Regions from separate parts of the Homo sapiens genome. Here region 1 is linked to region 2. A link means that fine-mapping ties the variant in region 2 to the expression of a gene that starts in the linked region. Tissue or cell type: whole blood. Region 2 holds a variant in brackets; the other region holds the start of a gene. All regions are shown on one strand. Distances are between the middles of the regions.

The links. PIP is the estimated chance that this variant, and not a neighbour inherited with it, causes the effect.
Region 1: ZNF703 starts here. The variant in region 2 is fine-mapped to the expression of ZNF703 in whole blood (TOPMed, PIP 0.98).

Annotation. Positions count from the first base shown.
Region 1 is chr8:37,690,783-37,698,957 of GRCh38, forward strand. ZNF703 (zinc finger protein 703) reads left to right here and starts at 5,000. Exons shown (of 2, transcript NM_025069.3): 1 at 5,000-5,440; 2 at 6,363-8,175. The coding sequence starts at 5,198. The coding sequence ends at 7,892. It overlaps LOC124901932 (a long non-coding RNA gene), which reads left to right and starts at 3,148. Exons shown (of 2, transcript XR_007060887.1): 1 at 3,148-3,218; 2 at 3,633-4,001. LOC124901933 (a long non-coding RNA gene) reads right to left here and starts at 4,899. Exons shown (of 2, transcript XR_007060888.1): 1 at 4,658-4,899; 2 at 3,963-4,201. RefSeq lists silencers at 3,639-3,823, 4,611-4,960, 5,011-5,110 and enhancers at 4,845-5,388, 5,389-5,931.
Region 2 is chr8:37,562,298-37,570,472 of GRCh38, forward strand. The region is part of intron 1 of LINC01605 (long intergenic non-protein coding RNA 1605); the gene reads right to left. LOC105379379 (a long non-coding RNA gene) reads left to right here. Exons shown (of 3, transcript NR_188159.1): 3 at 2,587-3,096. Among named protein-coding and RNA genes, the nearest start is that of LINC01605, 33 kb to the right of the region's middle. The variant G/C (reference allele first, on the strand shown) is at 4,714.

The sequences.
Region 1 (8,175 bases), 130 kb after region 2:
TCAAGAGTTCAAGACCAGCCTGGCCAACGTGGTGAAACCCTGTCTCTACTAAAAATACAAAAATTAGCTGGGCATGATGGTGGGCGCCTGTAATCCCAGCTACTTGGGAGGCTGAGACTGGAGGAGAATCGCTTGCACCCAGGAGGCGGAGGTTGCAGTGAGCCAAGATCACGTCACTGCACTCCAGCCTGGGCAACAGAGCAAGACTCTGTCTCAAAAAAACAATGCATTTGGGAAAAGGTACTTTAACATGTTTATACAATCAACATTTTGAAAAATACAATCATCCGTGTTAAACCTTTTGGGAATACAGTGAGGTGTGATATAAATAAATAGCCCTATTTTTGTAAAATTCTTCGTTCATCAGAAACATTCACTGGGTACTAACTGCACTGAGACTGCCTGGACCTGGATTTGACACTCCAGGCTCACCTCCTACCAGCTTGGGCCTTGGGCAAGTTACTTAACCTTTCTGTGCCTGTGAAATGGAAGTAACCATAGGACCCATCTCCTAAGGTTTCTGCAAGGATTAAATGAGAGAATGCACGCAAAGTGCTTAGAACAGCGTTTGGCACTCAACGTTGGCTACTGTGGTGATGGTGAACCGCTCTGTTAGGCAATAAGTACACAAAGAGGATGAGGAAAACAAGAAGCATTCACAGTCCAGTGGGAGATCAGACAAGGAAGCAAATAGTGGCAGATGCCATGTGATAGGTGTAATAATAGAACATAATACCAACTGTGAGAATGTAGAAGAGGGAGCCTCTTGAGTCATCGGTGGGGCGGGCTTCCTGCAGGGCTGGCTGTCCTGGTCTTAGCCTGCTTGCTCCCACTGTTCCCTGGTGCCCCTCTCGTGCCCCAGGCTGTGTCTGAAGCCGGGGGATGGGGCAGACAGAGGAAGCGCCTTCAAGTGCCCTGAGTGCAGTGTGCTAAATCAGGGCTCCCGGCCAAAGCAGTAATTGCCAGCCGCTGAAAGATATTAAGCGCCAGGGAGGAAAACCAAGTTCTCTATGAGGCAGACTTTTCAGAGTTCTTACAGCTTGTAAAAAAAAAAAAAATGTAAATAGTTACCCAGTGAGATATTATTTCATGTTGTTGCCATTAGGGTTTGAGTGTTATGCAGAGAGAGGAGAGAGAGGCGATCATTCAGGCAATTCTGCCTCGGCAAGGACTGAAAACTACACATTAACCCCACACAACAAATCTACCCCCTCTAGGTCTTAACCTGACTCGAGCATTTTTTCCTGGGTGGTGAATTTTATGTAAATTGAAGTAGTGAAAAAATAATCTATACATATTCACAGTTTCTTAAAGGATTTTCTTGATGGCTTCTAGGGAGGGATGGGCTATTTTTTTTTTTTTTTAAGACACATTGCGGGCTGGGCACGGTGGCTCATGCCTGTAATTCCAGCACTTTCGGAGGCTGAGGCCGGCAGATCACTTGAGGTCAGGAGTTCAAGACCAGCCTGGCCAACATGGAGAAACCCCATCTCTACTAAAAATACAAAAATTAGCTAGGCATCATAGCACACGCCTGTAATCCCAGCTACTCGGGAGGCTGAGGCAGGAGAATCGCTTGAACCCGAGAGGCAGAGGTTGCAGTGAGCCGAGATCATGCCACTGCACTCCAGCCTGGGCAAGACAGCAAGACTCCGTCTCAAAAAAAAAAAAAGACACATTGAACTGGAGGCTGGGGAAGGGTTACTTTCATTTCTGTAGAATTCAGAGACAACCTGGGCTCTTCTGCTTGGGTTCCCAGGGCTAAATCTGGTGCTGATGTGGCTGCTCCCCTGAGCAATTGCTCCTCAGACACAAATGATGCAATCGGTTACAGCCATCATTTACCTTCAACTTTCTTTGTGCCAAGCATGAAACAGGTGACATGCATTGTCTGCTTCTGGTCTCCCAACTCTGAAGTGGCCACGCTTCCATTTTACCCTGGAGGAAACCAAAGCTTAGGGAGGTTCACTTGCCCGGGGTCCCCACAGCAGCCTGGTTCTGGGCCTGACTCTCTTCAGCTTGAACTGAGAATGATAGCAACACCTGATGTTTATTAAGCGCCTGACATACCGAACTGTCATTCTTCACCACAGTGTCATGGGGGCACTCTCAGGCAGCCCTCTCCCCTGTCCCATTTTAATGGTGGCCGCTCATTCCCAGGGCCATCTGAGGAGGACCTGGACAGTGGAAGGCCCCTGAGCCACGCATCTGCCACTTTTTTGCAGAGGGAGAACCTGTGTCATATGTCCTGAACAGGGATGTCTTACTCGGGCCTTCCAACCACATCGCCCTCCATAAACACAGCCCATCTGAATACAGAGCCACATTCCCTCCCAGGTGACAAGCCATTCCTCTGAAAACTACACTTGCCTTCAGGCCCCGAGGGCCCCATTTAGTGCTCTGTATAGGTTAGCATTTTAGCTAAGTGAATGGTGAATCCCAATTGTAATAATCATCTAGCAGTGTTTTAATTAGGCCTCTGGCCTGGCTATGCATGGTTTTTCATTTTCCCTCCTAAGACGTTTGGATGGATCCAGCCAAAGAAACCCTGCTGCCCTGACCAGCAGCTCAAAGTGTGTCCCTCCCGCCTTGCATGCTTTCAGAGGTGTGTCCTACCACTTCCCAGGAGGTGGGAGCAGGCCAATCTGTGTGCCCGTCAGTAATTACCACTGGGAGCTCAGGGAGTGAGGTGTTTTTAACAGGACAGTATAGTATTACCTAGGCAAATCCCCCATCACATCCTGCCAGTCTGTCCTTACCTCCTCTTCTCTCCCTTCCTTTCCTTCATTCACTACCTTTTTCCTTCTCTTTTCCTCTCCAAACAGAGAGTGAATATTCTATTGTCCTCTCTCTTCTCCCCTCTCTCCTTTCAGCTGCCTCCTGCTCTGTTTTCCAAATTCCTAAATACCTCTTCCCTCTCCCCTCCCCTTTTCCTCCTGACTTATTTCCCATTAATCATTTCTAACACACATCTGCTCAGGCCCTAGAAGGATCCCTTGGCTCCCTCTCACAGCTGGGCTGGTTACAATAATCAGGGAGACTTTCATCTTTCATAGCCTCCTAGGTCTCCCCTCTGCCCAGCTCCTCCTCCTCTGCGTTCCTGCAAAGGCCAGCCTCTCTGCACCCTGGCTTCCTTCTGCCCTTCCCGCTCTACACAGCAGTCTCCCGAAGGCAAAATGGCTTGTGGGTGGACACAGCCCTGCAGTGGACTTTTACAGGTGGTGTTTGCAGTGATGGCAATGGCTGCCCGCACAGAAGTCGGCATGAGAAGCCTGCCACGATGAAATAAATGAGATCACTCCCTCCCTTTTCATTCCCGCACCCCTCTTGCTGCAATGTGGGATCCATCTCACAGTCAGGGTACCCCTTTCCATTCGGCGTAACATGATTTTACCAAGATTAAAATTGGGGAACATGTAATTACAGCTTGTGTAATTTCTAAGCATTCTATAAGTGCTGCCCAAAATACAGTATGGATCCAGGGAGTGCACTTAGTTTTGGGTATGACTGATACTGCCTGGAAGTGGGGTCTGCTGTCTTCTACTACTGGGCAAGATACAGATTCGTGATAGCTATTTCTTTCTGTTTGAAGAGCTCCTTTGAAATCACCTCTCCCCATCTTGGGTTCTCAGGTCATCTCAAGGCGTCGGTCAGCGCGGCAGAGTCGGGAACCTGCCATCCTAGAGCAATACGCCCCGAGTGACAGCCCTGACAACCGGAGTGATGGATCGGGACTGGAAAAGTGGTGCTGGGAGCCAGGCAGTGACACCAGCGCGCCTCCACTGGCCGCCGAGCGCACGGAGAAGTGGGCTCCCCAGAGTTCGGCACCCAAAGGACCAACTTCGCCTCCGGAAAAGCGGCGGATCCGGAACTTGGATGTCAGGACTATGACTACGTAAAATCTCTGCCCAGGGCGAAGCTAGCAATGCACACTGTATCAGAAAGGCGCAGGGAGTCGGGAAGGGTATTGTTATTTTTAATTAAAAGTTTTTATCCCGAAATTTGCCTGGGGAAAGCAAGTGCTTTTTCCCCCGGAGTGAGAAGGATGGGGGGGCGGAGGGGTTGTGTTGCCGAGCAGCGCTTAGAGAGAGATCCCCCTCCAGGGACACCCGCCTCGCCCGTGATCTCGGTCTCTCCTCGTAGCAGCTGGGCGCGGTACAGTGAGGAACTTCACGCCCCTCAGCAGGACACGGTAAGAAGCCTGTAACACACCAGACACCGAGCCTCTAACGCAGGGCGCAGGCACAGCGCGCACAGCCTGGGGTCCCGCGCTTGGTCGCCGACCATGTCACTCCAGAAGGGAGACAAACTTGCAGGCTTCAGACAAGACGGGCTCAAAGTAGTTGGAGCTGCCTACGCCGCGTCCCGAGAACAGTGGGTGCCTCCGAGGCTCGGGCGCTTCCAAGTGAACACACCAAGGGGAGGCCAAGTAGGGGAAGGAGAGCGGGGCCGAGGAGAGCCGGAGCAGCTCTGGAGAAGGACCCGGGCTCCCGAGGCGAGGCCTGCCCCCAGGCGGCCTCTGGGAGAGGCTTGAACTCCAGCGTCCCAGAGCCCGCGCCGTGCGATCCCTCCCACCCCACCCCACCCCACCCCACCCCACCTCGGACACACACGGCGGGCGGGGTTACAGCCCCCGCCAGCATCACCCCCCACCCACCCAGTGGTGAGAAGGGAGAGAGGAGAGAGAGCGGCCGGAAAGGAGGACGGGGCGCAGAGCTCAGGGTCCCGGAGAAGTCCCGTCCCAGGCGGGGGACCCCAGGGCGAGGAAGGCCCAGTCGGGGGGAGGGGAGGAATCCCGGGAGCGGCCGAGACCGAGGCAGCGGCGGCGCGCGGCGCGGCCCCTTTAAGGCTCTCCCCGCCCACCGATGGAGCCGGCCTCAGCCCGCCGCTCTCCCCGCCCCGGGGTCCCGGCGAGAGCTGCGATTGGGCGGGCGCGGCGATCCCTTTGAAGTGTGGCTGCCGATCGCGGCTATTTGACGTGCGGCTCGAGGAAGGCGAAGGTTTTTGTGTTGCTAGCCGGGGCCAGCGGCGGTGGCGGCGGCGGCGGAGGCGTCGGTGGAGGAGGGGAGGCGGCGAGGAGGCGCAGCTCCCGCTGCACCGCGATCGACGCTGCGGAGCGAGCCCACCCGCCCCGGGAGCTCGCCTCCCCGGTGCTCCCCCGCCCTCCCCGCCCCCCCAGCGGCGCTGCCTCCTCCAAATGAGCGATTCGCCCGCTGGATCTAACCCAAGGACACCCGAAAGCAGCGGCAGCGGCAGCGGCGGCGGCGGGAAGAGGCCGGCGGTGCCGGCAGCGGTGTCCCTCTTGCCACCGGCGGACCCCCTGCGCCAGGCGAACCGGCTCCCGATCAGGGTCCTGAAGATGCTGAGCGCTCACACCGGTCACCTCCTGCACCCGGAGTACCTGCAGCCGCTGTCCTCCACTCCCGTCAGCCCCATTGAGGTCAGTCCCCGGCCGCTGCCCCCGGGCGCCGGCCCCATTCCTCCCACCGCGACCGGGACCCTGACCCAGCTCCCAGCGCCCCGGGGCTCGGTGCGACACCCAAGTCTGGTCACGCTGGCGGGCTGAGTGAGGAGGGGAAGAAAACCGAGGGATCAGAGCCCACCAGGGCTTCCCCAGGCTTCCCCGTGGAAGGGTCTCCTTCCACGCTCGCCCTTCGGAGCTCCGTGTTTTCTCTCGGATTGGATTTGCTCCTGGAGTCCCCTCTGGGTCCTTTACTTTTCCTCTGATCCCCAGTTTCCAGCCAGGAGTTGGTCTCTGCTGGGTCTTCCCCGCCCCCCACGCCGGGCTGTTTTCTTTGAAGCCCTGGCTGCCCGGGTCCCACTTCGCCTCTGTCCCATCCGGTGAGGGCGCACGGCGCCCTGGCGCTCCCGATCCCGGATCTTTCTTCCTGCCTCTTCCCTGGGTGCCCTCCCCGGGAGGGAGGGGCTACGGAGAGAGCGCCAACTGCAGCCCCTCCTTTAGAATCCGCGCTCCCCTCTCCTACCCCGCGGCGCCATCGCCAGAAACCCGTCCCAAGCGAAGTTCCCCCAAACTAAAGGAATAAGTTTTTTCCTGGGCCTGGAGGAGGGGGACATTAGAGGGAAGTGGCGAGTCACAGCCCCGACTCCAGAGACGTCACCTTCTCCCGCAGGGGTCCTGGGTGAACTCCTTCCGCAGGGCCTGCGGCGCACCCCGGGACCCAGCGGCAGTGTGGGCGCAGTTCCGCCAGCTGCCGCGCCCGGCCCGGCCCTCGCTCGCAGACCCTCTCCCCAGGCCCGCCCCGCCCCGTGGCGCCGCCGCCCAGCTCCCCGGGCGCCCCCGCTCGCCCCGCAGGCCTCTGAGTCTCACTCCTTCTCCCTCCCCCTGCTTCTGTCTCCCACAGCTGGACGCCAAGAAGAGCCCCTTGGCGCTGCTGGCTCAGACCTGCTCGCAGATCGGCAAGCCGGACCCGCCGCCCTCCTCCAAACTCAACTCGGTGGCGGCGGCGGCCAACGGGCTGGGAGCGGAGAAGGACCCCGGCCGCTCAGCCCCGGGCGCCGCCTCCGCAGCCGCGGCCCTGAAGCAGCTGGGGGACTCACCGGCCGAGGACAAGTCCAGCTTCAAGCCCTACTCCAAGGGCTCCGGCGGCGGCGACTCCCGCAAAGACAGCGGCTCCTCCTCGGTGTCTTCCACCTCCTCCTCGTCCTCCTCGTCCCCGGGAGACAAGGCGGGCTTCAGGGTCCCCAGCGCCGCCTGCCCGCCCTTTCCCCCGCATGGAGCGCCGGTCTCCGCATCCTCGTCCTCGTCGTCGCCCGGCGGCTCCCGCGGCGGCTCCCCGCACCACTCTGACTGCAAGAACGGCGGCGGGGTTGGCGGCGGGGAGCTGGACAAGAAAGACCAGGAGCCCAAGCCCAGCCCGGAGCCGGCAGCCGTGAGCCGCGGCGGCGGTGGGGAGCCCGGGGCGCACGGTGGCGCCGAGTCCGGGGCCTCCGGGCGCAAGTCCGAGCCGCCCTCGGCGCTGGTGGGGGCCGGCCACGTGGCGCCGGTGTCTCCCTACAAGCCGGGCCACTCGGTGTTCCCGCTGCCGCCCTCCAGCATTGGCTACCACGGCTCCATCGTGGGCGCCTACGCCGGCTACCCGTCTCAGTTCGTGCCTGGCCTGGATCCTAGCAAGTCCGGCCTCGTGGGAGGCCAGCTGTCTGGGGGCCTGGGCCTGCCGCCGGGCAAGCCCCCCAGCTCCAGCCCGCTCACCGGGGCCTCCCCGCCCTCCTTCCTGCAGGGATTATGCCGCGACCCCTATTGCTTGGGAGGTTACCACGGCGCCTCGCACCTCGGCGGCTCCAGCTGCTCCACCTGCAGCGCGCACGACCCTGCCGGGCCCAGCCTGAAGGCGGGGGGCTACCCGCTGGTGTACCCCGGGCACCCGCTGCAGCCCGCCGCGCTCTCGTCCAGCGCCGCCCAGGCCGCGCTCCCCGGCCACCCGCTCTACACCTACGGCTTCATGCTGCAGAACGAACCGCTGCCGCACAGCTGCAACTGGGTGGCAGCCAGTGGGCCGTGCGACAAGCGCTTCGCCACCTCGGAGGAGCTGCTCAGCCACCTACGGACCCACACGGCCCTGCCGGGAGCCGAGAAACTTCTGGCCGCCTACCCCGGGGCCTCGGGCCTGGGCAGCGCCGCCGCCGCCGCCGCCGCCGCCGCCTCCTGCCATCTGCACCTCCCCCCGCCCGCCGCCCCCGGCAGCCCCGGGTCGCTGTCCTTGCGGAATCCACACACTTTGGGCCTAAGCCGGTACCACCCCTATGGCAAGAGCCACTTATCCACAGCGGGGGGCCTGGCCGTGCCGTCCCTCCCCACAGCCGGACCCTACTATTCGCCATACGCGCTGTATGGACAGAGACTAGCTTCAGCCTCGGCGCTGGGATACCAGTAACTACAGCTCTTCCTCCACCCCAGCCCCCTCACCCTCCTCCCTCTCCCTCCTCCTCCCTCCCCACCTGCCGTCGCCGCTGCAACCTCCACTACTGCTTGACCCTGCCGGGATTCCCCACCCAGCCCTTCCCCACCGGACTGTGTATTTATTTACTATAATGTTAGCTTACAAGCTGGGAATATAAGTGCATTAACGGCCCACATGAGTCAATGGTATGCAAAAAGTCTGTGTTCTCCCAAATAATAATATTAATCCCACAAATAACGACATGATCCCCGCCCCT
Region 2 (8,175 bases):
CTAGCATAGCCGTGGCCTGTGTGCCTGCTCAGGGCAATGCTGAGATCTTTAATTTTTCTTCACAGAGATTAATCCCCAGAGGAAGCAGCTTGCCAGTGAATGACAGCTTTTGTTTGCTCATGTTTTCCTCTCCTCCCAGAGTCAACTTTCAGAATATACCAGGATGTTCCCTCTCACTTGACTTTCTTTTCTTTTCTTTTCTTTTCTTTTTTTTTACTGGAGGAGAGGGGAGGCTCCACAGCATATTATCCAAAGGCGAGGCAGATGGTTCTTTGTCCAATAGTGAGAGAGGGGAGAGAGGGGCCATTGGTCTTCTCTTTTTGTGTTTTACGTTTTTACTTCTCATGTTGAGATGTTGTAACGGCACTTCATACCTCCTCGGCCGCTGTTGTCTTCACAATGCACAGAACATGTTCCATGTCATGTCATCTTGCTCTTCCCACACAACTCTTCTGTGGGGCAATACTGGTTTTGGAATTGCCATTTTAGAAGTGAGCAAACAAGACTCAGATCAAGTGACCCAGCTCAAGTCTCATGGGCAGGAAGTGGACAAACCAAGGTCTGAACCAAAGTGAGTGCTTTTTCTACCAGGCTACAAAATGGAATGTTGCAGGGAGCTGCCTGCCCAGTGAGTGAGTCCTCTCCTCTCCCTGTGCTGGGTAGAGTTCTCAGTGTAGATTCCCTGGGGCAGAACACACTGAGAGTTGCATGGTGATTTTTACCCCATCCACCAACTGCATATCAAAGTCTCTGCAGGCTAGATTACGAGACCAGGCGTCCAAAGCATCTAAGCCACTGCTCCCCACTCCTTCCACTTCCAGTGGCAAAAAGGACTCAAATAGACTCAATCCACAAACGTTCTGTGGAATACCCACTCAGGGCTAGAATATTGAGGGATTTGGTGCAAGGAAAAGATACCCTCCCTGCTCTTAAGGAGTTTACAGTCCAGATGAGGAGACAAAGCAGAGAACCCTATATCATTACAACTGCTAAGAACCTTGGAGATCAGCCATCTAAACCCCGTGTTTAGCAGTAAGGATATGGGACAGTTCAGGGAACCGAGGAGTGGATCAAGAGGGGCAATAGGAAACAGTGTTGCGTTTCATGCTGAAGAGTACAGTGGGGCAACTGGCGCGGTGGCTCACACCTGTAATCCCAGCACCTATGGAGGCCAAGGCAGGAGGATCACTTGAGCCCAGAAGATTGAGACCAGCCTGGGAAACATAAGGAGACTGTGTCTCTATAAAAAAATATTTTTTAAAAAATTAGCCAGGTGTGATAGCGTGTACCTGTAGTCCCAGCTACTTGGGAGGCTGAGGGTTGGAGGATGGCCTGAGCCCAGGAAGTCGAGGCTACAGTGAGCCATGATCATGCCACTGCACTCCATCGTGGGCTACAGAGGGAAACCCTGTCTCAAAAGAAAAAAAAAAGAGTGTGGTGGGGTCTGCAAGCTGGTCAGAGAATGCTAATTGGTCCAGACACACTCTAGGAGAACATAAAATTTGGTCTCCATCTTGAAGCATATATAGCACTGAATAGATGGACAGAAAGACAGGTGCCACAAAAGCAGAAGGAAGAAGGCAGACTGAAGTCTAGTGTGCCTGCGGGACAGTGAGGGGCTGGAGTCGAGAGAGAGGGAGGAGAGGAAAAAACCAAGGCTGAAAATTTGGATGAAGCCAGACCCTGGAGGATCTTCAGCAGTCAGGAGGAACATGCATGCAAAGCCAGAAAGAAGATAGTTGATGGTCAGGGTTTCAGGGCTTGCTGACCAATGAAACCCTGGTCCTGTAATTCTGTAAGCTCCAGACCATTTCCTCCACAGCCACACCTACCAACCCATCTAAATTGACAGCCCCGGAGGCTGGGGGCACACGGAGGTCCCACTGCGCACTATTCTGTGAGTCTGGATTGAGTAGCACTGCCACGGGGTTCACCTAGCCCAACACATTCAGGTCATCCGGCCGCACACCCACAGTCCACCCTTTTCTCATTCCTGCAGCCACCACCTCCATGTTTCTGTGAGCTCCCCAACCCCAGGCCCTCCTCCCTGGCTCTCCAGGACGCCCCAGGCAAGGACTGGTTTGTCCAAGCTGGAAGAGCAAAGAGTGAAAGGGCCAGGGAGGAGGAGGCTGCTTTGGGGTCAGTAGGAGCTCACATTGGCAGACTAGGACATCAGAGAGGAACCCCTTTCTGCAGGACAGCAGAGACACAGTGAATGGACATCTGGGGCCAAATTCCTCCAGCGCACGGGGACCCTGAGGGCACGAAAGCCAGAAAGAGGACCCCGCTGTGTCCCTGGCCTCCTACTGCACACTCCTGTGGCTTGAACATCTCCATCAGCTGTTGCTTTTTTTTACCTTGTACCTCACTTTACCCATTTTAGCCTAAAAACAAGAACGTCTGCCCTCTTCCTTCTTAACCAAGACTGAGATGAGGACAAGTCAGACCCTTCAGACCCATCGTTTCAGGGACCAGGTGTGGCAGCTGTTGCAGCTAAAACTCACAATGACCATAGTAATGTCATCGTTCCTCTGCTTCCAAAAACAAAGCCTGTCTGCGTTCATTAACAGCCCTTTGTTCTTCTAGCAGCTCCAGCCTGAATGAGAAGCACGTCCTCCTGGGAGTTACGTCAGCAGCCTGACCTTCCATCTTCCTCCTCTAAAGAAGCGTCCCTGCCACCCTGAGCACGAAGCCCTCGGGTTCCTAAAGGCCGAGGCGCTTCTTCTCATTTACTTCCCTTGAGGAAGAAAGACCAGCCCATCCACCCTCATTTCCCACCGAAGGGCATCGCAAATAAAGTTTGCCCACGCAACCAGGCCACCACCATTAATTTCTCTCTGCCCTGCTCTTACATTCTCCTCAAGGTTTTCAGTCCCCTAGAGAGGCTCCCTTCCCTCTTTTCTTTCCTTCCTCCAGCCCCCCTTTTCACCTCCCTCCACCATTGTTTGAGGTTAAGAAGCATGCTACGGTGTTCTATAAATCACTTGGCAAGAGTAGACGACAAAAGCAAAATATAATTCAGATTAAAGTCATCCTCCCGCTGAAATGATAGTTTCTTAAATAAATGGCGATGCTGCCTATCAATCTTGCTGGCAACTGGTCCTCTCATATTCATCTTTCTGGGGGTGATTTAGGATCCACCTGGGTCCTCCGAGAAGATTCTCCCATCATTTCCTTCCCGTCTCTCTGGATCTTGCTGCTGGGCTTGGCGCAGTTGACAAATTCTCCAAGTAATCCCTCAAAAGATTGGAGAAATGCTCCGAACGCTCCATTAAACTTATTTTCCATGCTTTAAGAGACCCAAAACTATGTCCAATAAATAAGTGTTCCCTGTGATTTACTGAAATGCTCCTCTGATTTAAAGTTATAGAGGGAAAAATATGGCGCCCCTGGGAGGGAAGGACCAGCCTCACAAGTGAGACCAGATGTGAGATTTCTGCCCGGGGAGGGGAGAAGAGGGGGAAAAAACAACCCAAGTGGTGGAGGTTTGAAAGTGACAATGTCTGAACCCAGGCTCTCGGCTTTAACATAAAAGGTCCCCAGTTGAACATTCTTTCTCACAAAATTTATTGTGGTTGTAGTTAGAGGGGGAACCATCAAAAGAGTAATTCTGGCCCTTGTTTTGCAGAGCTCTTTTGATAAATATGATACTTAGAAATATGCCTCCCACTAGACAGAAAAGCCATATAGTTAAAATGAAGTAATCTGTCAGTAAACTCGCTAGAATCAAAGCCAAAATGAAACCTGTAAAAGGAGAAGGGGGAAAAAATCTCCACTTAGAAACGTTTGAGTCAAGCAGGGGAGAAGGTAGAGATTAAGAATTGTCCTTTATTCAGATATTTTTATCTACGGAGTTAAAAGCGGAGATTTATTTTTAAAAGGGGCTATTTATGTTCCAATCTCCAACAGATGGGTCTGTGTTCCTGCCTCGCTCATGCAGCTCAGGCTCAGCAAAAAAACAGCTTCTCTTCTGAGCTGAAACTTACCCAAAAGAAGGAGGAATAAAAACTTTGGGAAACAAATGTAACCTTTGGAGCTGCTTGGTAAATATTGGAACTGTTTACTATGGAGGCCCAGATGTGTCAAAACCAAGAAACAAACAGGAACCAGCAAAAACAGATGTGAAGACTAGACATGTATACATATTAACCATGTATTACATATGCATATGTGTGCACACGTGTCACTCATGTACTGATTCCCAGAGGGCTGGATAACTTCGGCCAAGAAAATTCCCACTGGGGAAGAGACATCATCCATAGGTTATCCCAAATAGTTCTATCTTAGGAGTCCACTTCTCTGAGTCTCTCTTCACGTGATCAATCACTTGTTTAGAAAATATTTCTCATGGTCAATAACAGAAAATTTTTACATTAGCTCCACTAGTGAAATTACCCTCAAAGCATTTCTTGCACCAAAAGAAACCAGACTCCATGGCTGCATCAGCGACTGGGCTAGCCACTCTGGAAACAGGTTCCCAAGCCTTCAAGAGCTGCCAAGCCATCCCAGAATAAAGCGCCCCTCCTCACCGAGCAGCAGGCTCTGGTCTGTGCAGCTTCCACAAGGCCTGATCCCAGGAAAAGCCTTCCTGCTTCCCAGGGACTTCCCCATTCCTGTCCCCAAAACAACGCCTGAGGCTGTCAGCCTAGAGAAGGGGAAGTCCCCACCACCCCGTCCCAGGATGCGAGGCAGGAAGACATTTACCCCACCTGC[G/C]GGACAAAAAGATTAAGGCCCACGGTGTGTATACAGCCTCGGGCCAATTACAGTTTTCAAATTCTCCCACTCCCTCCACTGGCATTTGTCCTAGAGTGAAATGTGCCTAAAATGAAGAGGAGAAAGACAGAGGATAACAGAAGGGTGTCAGGGAAGGAGTCTTAAATATCAGATGACCCCAAATCTGACCCTGGTTCTGCAATAAAGTGTCTATGTGACCTGAGACCAGTGGCTTCACCAACCGGAACCCCAGTTTCTTCCATCTGTGGTGAAGCGTTGAACCAAATGACCTCCTGCTTCTCAGACTCCCAGAGATGGTCCCTTTCTCAGGCCCCAGGGCCTCCCTCCCTCCAAGGCACCCCTGCAGGTCTGGACAGAGTTGGAGGGTGTGGGGTTGGAACGGCACCTGTGTTTACAATGGTACAATCTGCAGTTTACTGTAATAAAATCATTTAATACATTCATAATTTTTTTGGCAAGGGGTTGTGTTTATGGTGAGCAAGACAGAGAGGGAATGATTGACTAGGACTGATTAAAACGATAAATCAAAAACGAAGGCGGGAGGACATGAAGAGCGCAAAGCCACAGGCAAATCCAATTTAAGTCTCAGGCTCGGTGTCTTTGTGGGAACAGCTTGGCCTGAGGATGAGCCAGCCCTGGGGGTGGGGGCCCCGGGCCAGGGTGGGAGTGATGGGGCACAGAATCTGGCAGCTCAACCCAACAGGGTTTATCTTCACCGGGCTGAGAAATAAGGAAATGGTTTTACAAGAACTCATTTCCTTGGGCCTCTGTCTTCAAAAGGATTTAGGAGGGCTGGAGAATAAAGGAGAGTGTGTGTGTGTGTCACATACGTGTGCATCCAGGTAGAATAATTTGAGCAAGACCTAGAGGGACTTTCCAGAATCAAAATTATCTTTAAAGAAAAAAACGATCCTTCAAGTAAAGTATCTGAAACTCCACTGCTAGCAAGGATTAGCAAACACTTCTGACCTTGCAAATGCTGTCCTTCAATAACTGAGTGCCTACTGCATGCCAGGCACTGTGCTGGGGCAGAAACAGATTGTTCACTTAACGAATAATGAGCAAGTCCAAGCACTGTCCTAGGCCCCAGGGATAGAAGAGTGAAAAAAGAATCCCCGACCCCATGGAACTGCTCTTGTGGGCATTTACCTCCTTGTGAATTAAGCACTATGTTTGCCCCTGGAAAAACAGGCTTCCAGTCAACAGTTGTTTATACAACAGTGTGATAAATGCTATAACTCAAAGGTGTACAAAGGGTCATTAATACTGAGGGGTTGAATTCTGATCCAGTCTTTATTATTATTATTATTCCACCCTTCTCACTCCCCGACCTCACTGTTCCATCACTCCCCACCCTGCTTCCATATGGACCCATTGTTTAACTCCCACATATAAGTGAAAACATGAGGTATTTGTCTTTCTGTGTCTGAGTTGTTTTATGTAGTGTTCTCCAATCCCACCCATTTTGCTGCAAAAGACCTGAATTCATTCTTTTTTATAGCTGAATACTATTCCATTGTGTATATATGCCACATTTCCTTTATCTAGTCATCCATCGATGGACACTCAGGTTGATTCCACAGGCTGATTTGCTATCATGATTTGCTATCATGAATATTGCTGCGATAAACATACGCATGCAGGTATCTTTTTGATATACTGATTTCTTTTCCTTTAGATAGAAACCCAGTAGTAGGATTGCTGAGTTGAACGGTGGTTCTATCTTTAGTTCTTTAAGAAATCTCCGTAATGTTTTTCATCCAGGTTGTACTAATTTACATTCCCACCAACAGTGTATAAAGTTTCCCTTTTCTCCACATCCTCTCCAACACCTGTTTAGGGTTTTTTTTATTTTGTTTTGTTTTGTTTTGTTTTTAACTTTTTAATAATCTGAGCTGGGGCTGGGCATGGTAATCCCAGTAATCCCAGCACTTTGGGAGGCCAAGGCAGGAGGATACTTTGAGGTCAGGAGTTTGAGACCAGCCTGAGCAACATAGTGAGACCCCATCTCTACAAAAACTAAAACATTAGCTGGGTGTGGTGGCATGCACCTGTGTGGTCCCAGCTACTTGGGAGGTTGAGGCGGGAAGATCGCTTGAGTCCAGGAATTTGAGGCTACAGTGAGCTATGATCACACTACTGCACCCCAGCCTGGGCAACAGAGCAAGACTCTGTCTCAAAATAATAATCGTAATAATAATAATGTGAGCTGGATCTTAAAGGGTAAGAAGAATCGCCCTTTCACAGCCAGAAAAGAACAGTGCTCCAGACAGAGGTCACTGCATTAGTGAAGGCATGGAGCTTTGGAAGGGCTTCTATTGGGAAGGGAGAGAAACCAAATGCCTAGGAAGGGCTAGGTATTACGTTGCTTGTCTGGTTACCAGCTAATTCCTTGGTTAGTTATTTAACAGCTCTCTGAGAGCACGTCTTCAAAAAAAAAAAGAGGTCAGGAGCCTGGGAATTGGAAGGCTGCGGGGAGATGGGTTGGATAGAGAAGTCAAGACAAACTTCAGTTACTTCACAGCTTTGCATAGGATGGTGTGGTAGAAAAAACTACTGACCACCAAAGATTCATGCTCCCCCAACACCATGTTGAGTTGCTTCTGGGGAGCAGATGCCCAGTCTACAATTTTCACCACCCACACCCACAACCCAGCCCATGCAGCTAGTGCGATCCACACGACTGGGTCTCACCAATGGAACATGGGCGTAAGGGTCATGCATCATGTCCAGGCCAACATGGTGTTAGTCTCCAGTGTGCTGTCTCCCCGTCCACAGAGACCGCGAAAGTATCCAATGTACTCCCTGGATAGAGACCTCTCCATGAGACTTCAGAAGCCAGGTGTTAAAGATGGTGTCATCACAAAATGGCAGCAAGGAGCTGTTCAGGGAGCCACCTTGTGATCCCTGAGGTAGGAGTATAACCTCATGGTGAGGCAGCACCTTCAGCAGAGGGCAAGTTCTGGAAAAGGAAACACAGCTATGAATCATCTACAGAGAATAAACCTGCAGCTGCAGGCAAAGGAGTTTATGGAAGGAGCTGAAGGGAGCTGCATGGAAGATAGACCACAGCAGCCACCGCAGTCCACAGTCCACAGTCCACAGTGCTGCTGGGATTCATTCACTTAGTCTAAGTCACGCCACCTGGGAACAGTTCCTGCAGGATTTCATTGGATCTCCTTTCCTAGAGAAATCAAACTCCAGTCCCAACTGTTACAACCAATACTCACCATCCCCCTCCTCTACTACCTATTCTAAATGCCCCTCAGCCCCCGCTACTGATCTAGTGGCTTACTTGGTGGGGTGACCCAAACCCACATCTTTGAGGGGACTGAGCCCAGGGTCACCGCGCCCTTCTCAGGATATGGCTGCTGTACTTGTCCATTTCCTATCAAAATTGGACGGGGGAATGCCATGAGACATCCCGGGGACAATCATATT